Linked DNA regions of Homo sapiens. The protein of the gene in region 2 interacts with the protein of the main gene of each other region in a pairwise test. Each region holds a gene or a part of one and is shown on either strand. Other genes may lie near its edges.

Region 1 (3,653 bases), on a different chromosome or scaffold from region 2:
AGCTGGGACAGAGGCCCCGAGCGGAGGCACCTTCTCGGTCCTTGGCAGAAGCCCGCCCTGCCTGCGCCTTCCTCTCGGACTGCTATTCCCCGAGCCGGGAGAGAGGCCATCTCTGCTGGGAAAGCCACTCAAAGTTTGTAACGCTTTGTGACCGCAGCCACAGGATGCTAATGAAGCCACCTGACTGTCCCCTCCTGAAGGGTGGGGCCTGGGCCTTGCCCCATCTCGCATACCCGGCTCCCTGAGCATATGTGGCCCTGCGCGCAGGGGCCCCATGAGCTTGCCCGCTGCCCCTGCCTGCTTGTGCTGCCCGGGGCCAGCCTGGAAACCACCTTCCTTGGACTCACTGGTGATCAGCTCCCCCGACATCCTAGGAGGGGCCGCTGCGAGCGGTGAGGGGTAACCACCTGTGCCGGCCCCCTCCTCCCTGGCATGCCCCTCCTCTCTGCTTCCTCCTGCGTGACCTGCCCCTCAGGCCCACGGCCCCTCACTCCTCTACCCTCAGCTGCCTGCCCACTCGCTCACAGCAACTCCTGGGCAAGGCTTCATCCCACCCCCACCACCCCCAGGGACTCTGACCACTCTTCTTGTGACCCCCACTGTCCCTTGAACAGCTGTCTACCTGGAGACCCTTTGTAACACTTTAGTGCCCCTCCACAGTGAAGACTCCCTGAGTGCAGGTCTCCTGATTTACCTCGGGTTTCTGGTGCCCGGCTCAGAGTTCAGGGCACATTGGTTAAATGAGTGAATGAATGAGTGATTCCTTGTCACTTCTCTACCTGTCCCTCCACCCCAGTCTCCCCCTCACTCCATTACTCCCCAGCCCTGTCCAAACCCCTGGCTGGGGACACAGGTGATCTGTGGATTCCTTGCTGTGGCCTTCCGAGGGAGGTCGAGCGGCAAGGTTTGAACCAGAGCCCCCCCACCCGGGTCTTGGCTTTCTTAGGAGTGTGGGGAGTTGGCATCAGATGATAGGGCCAGGAACGCCGGGGTGAACCTTGGTCAATCCTGGTATCACTAGTCTCTTTTATGAGCCCTGCCTCTGTTGCCCCAGGATGAACAGTCAGAGACACGTTGGTCTCTCACCTTGACCTTGGCCCACCTGCCACGTACATCTAGGGACAATGGCTGTTGCCAGCACAGACAGGCGGGAAGCCAAGGGCTGAGGCTTGCATATGTGCGTGGCTGGCGCCCTCCCCGCTGGACCTACCCTGATGTTGAGGCTGGCCACCACCACCTCTCCTGAGGGCGTGACGATGGGGATGTTCTCGCAGATGATCCCCTGTTCCACATCCACCACCTGGCCTGCAGAGACAGCACAGCGGGGCTGGGGTGGAGAGGGAGTGGTGGCGACCCCTCTGCATTCTGGGGAGTCTGCGTGCCCCTGGCTGCACGCCCTCATTCCCATCCCTGGCAGCATGCCAGCTGGTTCCTGACCAGCAGCCTGTGGTCCAGGGTCCCTAGGGAACACAGCCAGGTCTTCCAACAAGCTGAACTCTTCCCCCAGTGTCTAATACAGTGCCCTGGGCCGCCACTCCCTTCTGCAGCACCTGCCTCCCGTGGCAGCCAGCAGCTGGCACACTGACTGGAACTTTCTCTTGCTGTCCTGCATGGGTGAGGGGACCACATCCCCCTTGTTTTGAATGAATAATCCAGGCTGAGGCCCTCAAAGGGCGAGTCAGTACGGTGGCCGGCAGCTACTGTCTGGGAAGGAAGGCGGGCGGACCAGCACCTCTCTGCAGGAAACCCTCCAGGGGCCCAGCTCGACCAGGCCGAAGTCCTCAAAGACCCTGCCCGGCAGCCCTCCCGTCCTGGGTGGACTGGGATGGGCCAGAAGCACATGGAGGTCCCTGAGTGAGGGAGCGGGAATAGGAGGAGCTGGGGCAGCAGGTCAGCACCTGCAGCAGCAGCAGGGGCGGGGTCACTCATAGGGAGGGGACAGCCTTACCTCGGATCTTCAGGGGGCCCTCCACACGGACACCAGACCGGCCTATGGTCCCAGACCCCGCCTGAGCGTCCTCTAGCTCCCTGGGCCTCTTGAAGTGACAGCGCTGAACATCTTCAAATACCTGGAACATCTCGTGCACCCGGGCTGTGTAGCCAGCCAGCTCCGTCACCTGAGGGAGGGTGACCCTGGCTCAGCCCCTGCCAGTTGCAGGGAGAGAAGCATGGCAAGGATGGCAAGGGTGGGGCTGGGCCAGGGGTACCTCCTTGTACGACGACATGATCCGCTCAATGGCATCTGCAGCCGCTGTCAGGAGGTTGCGGGCAATAGTGAAGGCTTCTGTGCGCTCGCTCACCAGCTCCTCCTCCTTCTTTTCCAAGGCTGCCTTCTTCACGGCCTCTGCATCTGCAAAGCCCCAGAGGGGTGGGTGGCGGGGCGGGGAGGGGCAGGGCAGAGACAGCGGAAAGTCAAAAATGAGCCGCTGGAGAGAAAGGCGAGGCTCTTCTGCAAATGGTGCCGGGGCAACCAGCTCTCTCTCTCTTTCTCTCTATGTGCAGGAGAGGGACCCCTCACACCATACAGACAAACCAACCCAGAGCACATCACAGGCTGATGTGTAGTGTGGCCCAAAGTATGAAACTCTCAGAAGAAAATGGGATAAAACTTCACGACCTTGGATATGGCAATAGTTCCTTCACTAGGACACCAAAAGCATGAGCAACAAGAGAAAAACAGATCAACTGAACCTCATTCAACTCAACACTTTTGTGCACCAAAGGACAATATCGAGACAGTGAAAAAGACAACCTACAGACTGGGAGAAAACTCTGGACTGGTGAACCACACATCTGATGAGGGTGCAGTATCCAGAATATACAAAGAGCTTTTACAACTCAGCGACAGAGATAACCCGATCACACATGGGCGAAGGACGTGAACAGACATTTCTCCAAAGAAGACATACAAATGGCCACTCAACACATCAAAAGAGGCTCAGCGTCATTAGTCATCAGGGAAATGCAAATCAAAACCACCAAGAGATACTGCCTCACACCCACTAGGTGGCTAGAATACAAAGGAGATGATAACCAGTGCTAGCCACGATGAAAAGGTGGAACCCTCCAACACTGCTGGCGGGAAGGTAAAATGGGGCAGCCACTGTGGAGAACAGTCTCGCAGCTCCTCAAAAAGTGAAACGTCCAGTTACCATGTGACCTGGCAATTCTACTCCTAGCTACACACCCAGGAGAAACGAAAATATCTGCACACATAGAGACTTGTCCATGGATGTTCACAGCAGTGTTATTCACAATAGCCAAAACATGAAGAAACCCAAAATGTCCATCAAGGGATGAATGGATAAAGAAATTGTGGTCTATGCACACAATGGAATATTATTCAGCCATGAAAAGGAATGAAGGACTGATTCATCTTATGACATGGACGAATCTTGAAACCATGATGCTCAGTGAAGGAAGCTAGTCACAAAATGCCACAGAGCACATGATTCCATTTCTAGGACATGTCCAGATAGGCAAATCCACAGAGACAGGAAGCAGATGAGTGGGTGCCAGGGGCTGGAGAGAGGGAATGAGGAGTGACTGTTCATGGGTCTGGGGTTTCTTTGGGGGATAAAATAAAAATAAAACATTCTGGAGTTAGTGATGATGGCTGCACAACTCTGTGAATGAATTTAAACTGTACATGG
Region 2 (3,653 bases):
AGAAGCATGCAGGTGAAAGAACTGCCTAACAGCGTGCAGGAGAGAATGAGTGAAATACATTCCACAGGCAAAGGGCCCACCAACCAATAATAGCAAAACCATCCAGCAATAGGAAAAGAGAAGTTTTTGCCTAGTGATAGATTCATAACTCTTTCAGGTCTTACATTCTTCTAGAAGGCAGGACTGTTGGCCAAGGACTAAGCACTCCCGATTTTAAGCAGGCATGCCTAAAAGAGGATGACAGAGCAGGGAAAGATACCTTCGAGCAGGGTCGAGTGGTATGGGAAAACACTGGAGTGGTGAAGGAAGACTTGAAGGGGGTCACAGAGGAGTGAGGGGATCAAAGGTGAGAAAAGAACGTAAATGTTGTAGAATCAGAGCCTGAGAAGGAAACACCCAACGGTGCTAGTGGTAGTAGTGGGGCCTCTAGGCATGGAAATGGGAAGGTAGATGAGATGAGCCATATGTTGAATTTGAGTATTAGAGACAAATGTTTCACTTCGATTTTCCAGAGAGGGTTGGAGCCAGGATTGGGGCAGGGAGGTGACATGTCACCGAGAAGGAGAAGCTGGCACTGCAGATCTGGACATGAGTGACAAGAGTGGAGCCAACAGGTCACCAGAGGGCATGGTGCCCAGGGAGTGGGCCAGGAGGTAGTGCCCATTTCTGTGGCCTTTAGTTTGAGGACGAGGTTCTCTTTCATTCCTGGAAGGAAATGTTCAAGGTTTCCTCACAAGGAGCCCTGGGACCATCCACAGCGCTGGTGTTTTCTGGGCAGCAAGGCTTCCTGGGGTCCTAATTACTCCTTGGGCTTTACCGTGATGTGATCGCAGACATCTCATAGCTAGCTCCTCCGAAGAGACAAATGGCTCGTGAACCCGCAGTTCTTCAACAAACTGGGTGTAGACCAACAGTGATGGGTACAAAAAGAGGGAGACGGAGAAGGGTGTTCTTCCCATCTGTCCCAGTGGGATTCATGTTTCTCAGAGGGTAAAAAGAAAACAGAACTTGACCACTTGACCTTTACTTTCCTTTTACAGCAAATGGTTGTTCCAGAAAAAATGCAGCAACACCTGAACTCTTCTAAAGAAAAAGAAGACAAAATGATCTAGTGCATCTCTGCCATCCTGTTGAAGATCCTATTTGAAAAAAGGGAGACACAGAGAAAGGTTTTTTTTTTTTTTTAAAAGTGATAGAATAATCCAAAGTTAAAAATTCAACACAATGGAAAATATTAATTCAATCCATGCTGCAAACAAGCTTCTTGGGTTGCTTTATGAATTGTATGAGCTGAAGGACAGTACCTTCCATATGGTCATATCCTCACAACGCCTCTGGACATATTTTCCTATCTGACCGTCTTTCCCACCTGGCCTCAAACTCCTGGGCTCAAGTGATTCTCCCACCTCGGCCTCCCCAGTAGCTAGGACCACAGATGCATGCCACCATGTCTGGCTAATTTTTAAAAATATTTTGTGCAGACAGGGTCTCACTATGTTGCCTTGGCTGGTCTCAACAAACTGGGGCTCATCAGTAAATTGGGGCACTCTTTTCAGGGCTGATAACCTATTCCCCTGGATTCCCAAAACACTTTCTTAGTTCTTTCAAAGAGGTGAGCAAGTTTGCCTTGAGGCTAGAAGAATGGAGAGAAGACTGGGCATGGTGGCTCCTGCCTGTAGTCCCAGCACTTTGGGAGGCCAAGGCAGGTGAATGGCTTGAGTTCAGGAATTTGAGACCAGCCTAGGCAACATGGTGAAACCTCATCTCTAGAAAAACTGAGCCAGGCATGGTGGCACACACCTGTAGTCCCAGCTACTCAGGAGGCTGAGGTGGGAGGATCACCTGAGCCTGGGAAGTTGAGGCTGCAGTGAGCTGTGATTGTGCCACAGCACTCCAGCCTGGGCAACAGAGGGAGATCCTGTCTCAATAATAATAATAATAATTAATAATGTCTAGGACTTAGATGGGCAAAGAGGTGAGGTGAATATTAAGTATTTTGGAGCAGAAAGTAACAACTGTTTATGTCGGAACATCAGAAAAAGAAGACCATGGGTCAGACACAAATGCTCCCCCGCCTGCCCCCTGCAGTCTGTTCTCAGCACAGCCCCCTCTGTGGACTGTTGAAATGCGGCTTCTCTGCTCAGTGCCCTCCGATGGCACCACCTCACTTAGAAAAAAAGTCCTTGCAGTGACCTCAAGGCCCTACCTAATCTGCCCACCACCCACCCTTCTGACCATATCTTTTTTTTTTTTGAGACAGAATTTCGCTCTTGTTGACCAGGCTGGAGTGCAATGACACGATCTCGGCTCACCACAACCTCCACCTCCCAGGTTCAAGTGATTCTCCTGCCTCAGCCTCCCGAGTAGCCGGGATTACAGGCATGCACCACCAAGCCCGGCTAATTTTTTTTGTATTTTTAGTAGAGACAGGGTTTCTCCATGTTGGTCAGCCTAGTCTCGAACTCCCGACCTCAAGTGATCCGGCCTCCCAAAGTGCCGGGATTACAGGCGTGAGCCACTACGCCTGGCCCTGACCATATCTTTTATGACCTTCTCCCTCACTCAGCTTCAGCCACACTGGCCTCCTTGCCATTCTTCAAACACACGAGATGCACTCCTGCCCCAAGCGCTTTGCTGTCCTCCTGCCTCCAATCCTCTGCCTCCTCCCCAATATCCACAGCTCAGTCCCACACTTCTTTCAAGGTTTTCCTCAGAAGTCACCTTCTTGGTGGCTCATGCCTGTAAGCACTTTGGGAGGCCAAGGCTGGTGGATCACTTGAGCCCAGGAGTTTGAGACCAGCCTGACCAACATGGTGAAACACCCCCTCTACTAAAAATACAAAAATAGCCAGGTGTGGTGGTGCATGCCTGTAATCCCAGCTACTCGGGAGGCTGAGGCATGATAATTGCTTGCACCTGGGAGCAGAGGTTGCGGTGACAACTTTGTGCCATGGCATTCTAGCCTGGATGACAGAGTGAGACTATGCCTCAAAAAAAAAAAAAAGTCACCTTCTCAATGAGGCCTTCCCTTAACATCTCTACTTAAAATTGCAAACCCCAACACTCCTTATCCCTTTCCTTGCTTTATTTTTCTCCAAAGCATGTATCTCTATCTGATAAACTACATACTTTATTTGTGTAGATACTGTTTGTCTCCCTTAAAAACTCCGTGAGATCAGTAATATTGTCTCTTTGATCACTCCCATATCTCCGGTACTTAAACAGAGCCTGACATACAGCAGGTGCTCAATATAAGTTGAAGAAATGAATTCAGGAAGGAATGAAAAACCATTAGCAGTAGGCTAAGGAACTTAGACTTTGTCCTGCTAGTAACCGAAAATCATTAAAGGATTTTTCTCCCCCTCTTATAGTCGATATCAGCTAGGAAAACGGAATGAGTTTCCTTTCAGCATGGCAGACAAGAAAAAGTATAGAACACTGAGTCAGATGCTCATATATTTAAATTCTAGTTTTGCCACTTAGAAGCTAAGTGACCTTTGATAAGTTTTGTAATCTCTCTGAAACTCCATTGCTTCTCCTGAAATACCTATGACAGTAATTCATAGGGTTATTGGGGGAATTAAATGAAACATGTAGAAGTGTCTCAAACAGTACCTGGAAAAAATGTTTTAATAAATGTTTGTTTCCCTCCC
Region 3 (2,826 bases), on a different chromosome or scaffold from region 2:
CGTGTGCTCCTGGCAGATGCAGGTGCTGTGAGACCCTGACCAGGGCAGTGGCTGTCCATACACCCTTCTTCCCCTTTTCTACAGTTCTTTCATTCCATCAGCATTTTCACTTATCACAGACTTTGAGAAATACTTGTTCTTACTGAACTTTTTCTTCTAGTAGTGACATGATATAAATAAGGGCACAAAACAAGTAGGAACAGAGCACAGCAAAGTCATCATGGAAGCAATTCCAGACTCTATGCCACTGTTTGCCCAAGTGTGGTCCATGGTTAACAGGTATTAAGGTAAACGGCTCCGCGGTCAAGGAAGTCTGGGAGCTGCACACACTAGCACTTCAGAGGTTCCAAATGACCTGGGTCCTTTAGTTTGCTGATGTGCTTTACAAGCCAGTGGTATACAGGACTGGTGGCAGGACCATTTTTTTGTGTAAAATCTTGCGGGATTAGTGTTCTACAAATATGCTTACAGAAACACTTGTTCTAGATCAGCAACTGGGGGTAGGAGGATGCCACTGGAAAAACCTATTTACTATAGCTACTAACCACCACCCCCAACACACACAGCAGAACATAAAGTTTGAGAAAATCTTCTCAGCTAAGAATTTTAAAATGAGAAAAAAAAAGTTGACAAATACCATCTATGATAAAGACATAAAATGATTTATAGTTGGGGAGAATTTATGATCAAAGGATTGTCTCCAATAGGGTATATCTGAGGTTCCATACCAGGAGCGTCATTAAAATTGATGCCAATTTTATGAAATATGTTCATTTTGAAGCAGATGTGTATTAGTAGACAAGCCAATAATTTAAACATACTCAATGAAAATTCCATAGTGCAATTTTATCTAAGGTATTTTATGATTACTCTCTTAGAGCCACAGTTTTAAGCAGCTTTTTCCTAAACTAGGCTCGTTATTAATTTTCAACACTTCATACTATGATGAAGACATCACATACTTTAGACAGCCTTAATAGAACAAATTATTCAACAAAGTTGATTATACGTTCTATAAAGTAAATCACATTCTCTCATTGAGTGAGCTGAGTCTTTTTGAGTGTGGGGACAGAGTCCCTGCAGTCAGGAGCTCCAAGGCATAGAACTGCCTGCCCTGCTCTGTCCAGCAGGTAATGCTGCATTCCACAGGCCTCTTCTTCAGCCTTGCCCACTCAGCAGAGTACCTCAGGTTGTGACCATGAACGACTGATGAGAGTAACTTCTGACTTGCTCAGGGGATCCTCTTGCCATCAATTCCCTTCAGTATGACCAACCGCAGTGGCTTACTCGCTTCTTGTCCAGACCATCCACCATCTGTCTGCCCCATGATGCTCTCAAACCCCAAAGTCCTAATATCCCAGGCCTCTTTGTCTGTGAGAGGAAATGGTTCCCTCACTTTAAGTTCTGTAGGCTAATCAGAAAGGGATCTCTCTATAGTTTCAAAAAGTGAAATTTTACTTGCACTACAGAAATAAGAAACTTACAGATTTGTCCTTGAAGACCTACTAACCTGCAACTTTAGGGTCCTGAAAGAGGATTAGTATGTTTATAAGTACTTTTATTACAGTATTTTTTATTTGTTTCGGAGACAGGGTCTTGCTCTGTTGCCCAAGCTGAAGTGCAGTGGTGCAATCACAGCCTGCTGCAGCCTTGGCCTCGCAGGCTCAATCAATCCTCCTGCTTCAGCCTCCTAAGCAGCTGGGAACACAGGCTCATGCCACCACATCTAGCTAATTTTTATTTTTTGATAGAGATGAGGTCTCACTGTGTTGTCCAGGCTGGTCTCAAATTCCTGGACTCAAGCAATCCTCCCACCTCGGCCTCCCAAAGTGCTGGGATTACAGGCATGAGCCACCACGCCCGGCCACAGTATTTTTTAAATGCCAGTTAGGTTTTATAAGATGTAGAATTCTATAACTCCAACACAAGAATGACAGGTGATGCTTGCATGACTTTGGCAACTAACTTCCAGGAAGCCCTAGGATTTACAAGATGCTTTGAGTGACATTAGTCACAAGAGATTGTTGCAACTAAACAGAACACAGGATGATAAAGAATGAATGAGGAAGAATGAAGACCACTGGTGAGATGGCACTTCTGACCAGGGGCCTACTCCTGGAGGTCAAGTCCTTGAGTCCCATTGGAGGAGGAGTAACCCCTCCCTTCCCCACATAGAGTTTTAGTGCCTGAAACCTCACAGGGAACCAAGAAGATCTAATCTCACCTCTCTGGACTACAGAGGACTGCCGGTAGCCCTGGGAAGTACCAAGCTCTTGAAAGCTTCACACAGTGATGGTGGCAGCAGAGGCAGGAAGTGAGCAGTGCCATTAACTGGAGTGAAGGATTCAGTGAGGTTCTGAGACTCCCTTACAACCCCGCAGTTTGTATTTAGTCTAATACATTCTCCTCCCCTAGCTCAAAGTTCCAAGATTTAGATAAGCACAATTTAAGACAGGTTCCCTGAATACCCTATTAGGGAATGTTGGGACGTAGTTGAAATGGCAACTTTTATTAATGATGAATGGCAATGACTTTTAAGTTTGATCACAGAGTGTTTGCATATTTTCTTACTATTTTTGGTATGATTTAAAAATTATTGGTTCATTAACCATTTAAAAGAGGAATAATTCAGTAGAGGCACTAGGAGGTTGAACAGGATCATTCTTCAGTAATATTCTGCCTGGAGAGAGGAAAAAAGGATTCAGTTTACTCAGCTGCTTTAAAAACCTACCCACAACCAGCCTTGCAACACAAGCTCAGCACTGGGACTCAGACACCTCCTGTCTGAAGAGACTCTACATGCATTGTACAAAAAAGGACTACATA

Evidence for each region.
Region 1: the proteins of PXT1 (region 2) and ABCD1 come close enough for resonance energy transfer, tested with the Homo sapiens proteins (one large-scale study listed by BioGRID).
Region 3: the proteins of PXT1 (region 2) and ALDH3A2 come close enough for resonance energy transfer, tested with the Homo sapiens proteins (one large-scale study listed by BioGRID).

The regions. Positions count from the first base shown.
Region 1 is NC_000023.11:153,734,809-153,738,461, reverse strand, and holds part of ABCD1 (ATP-binding cassette sub-family D member 1), read right to left. Parts: intron 3,611-3,653; exon of another isoform or gene 2,351-3,610; coding exon 2,208-2,350; exon of another isoform or gene 2,118-2,207; coding exon 1,949-2,117; exon of another isoform or gene 1,851-1,948; coding exon of another isoform or gene 1,551-1,850; exon of another isoform or gene 1,306-1,550; coding exon 1,211-1,305; exon of another isoform or gene 1-1,210. UniProt on the Homo sapiens protein: ATP-dependent transporter of the ATP-binding cassette (ABC) family involved in the transport of very long chain fatty acid (VLCFA)-CoA from the cytosol to the peroxisome lumen.
Region 2 is NC_000006.12:36,390,736-36,394,388, forward strand, and holds part of PXT1 (peroxisomal testis-specific protein 1), read right to left. Parts: intron 1,140-3,653; coding exon 1,035-1,139; 3' UTR 1-1,034.
Region 3 is NC_000017.11:19,675,412-19,678,237, reverse strand, and holds the end of ALDH3A2 (aldehyde dehydrogenase family 3 member A2), read right to left. Parts: intron 2,681-2,826; coding exon 2,666-2,680; coding exon of another isoform or gene 2,613-2,665; 3' UTR 642-2,612; downstream 1-641.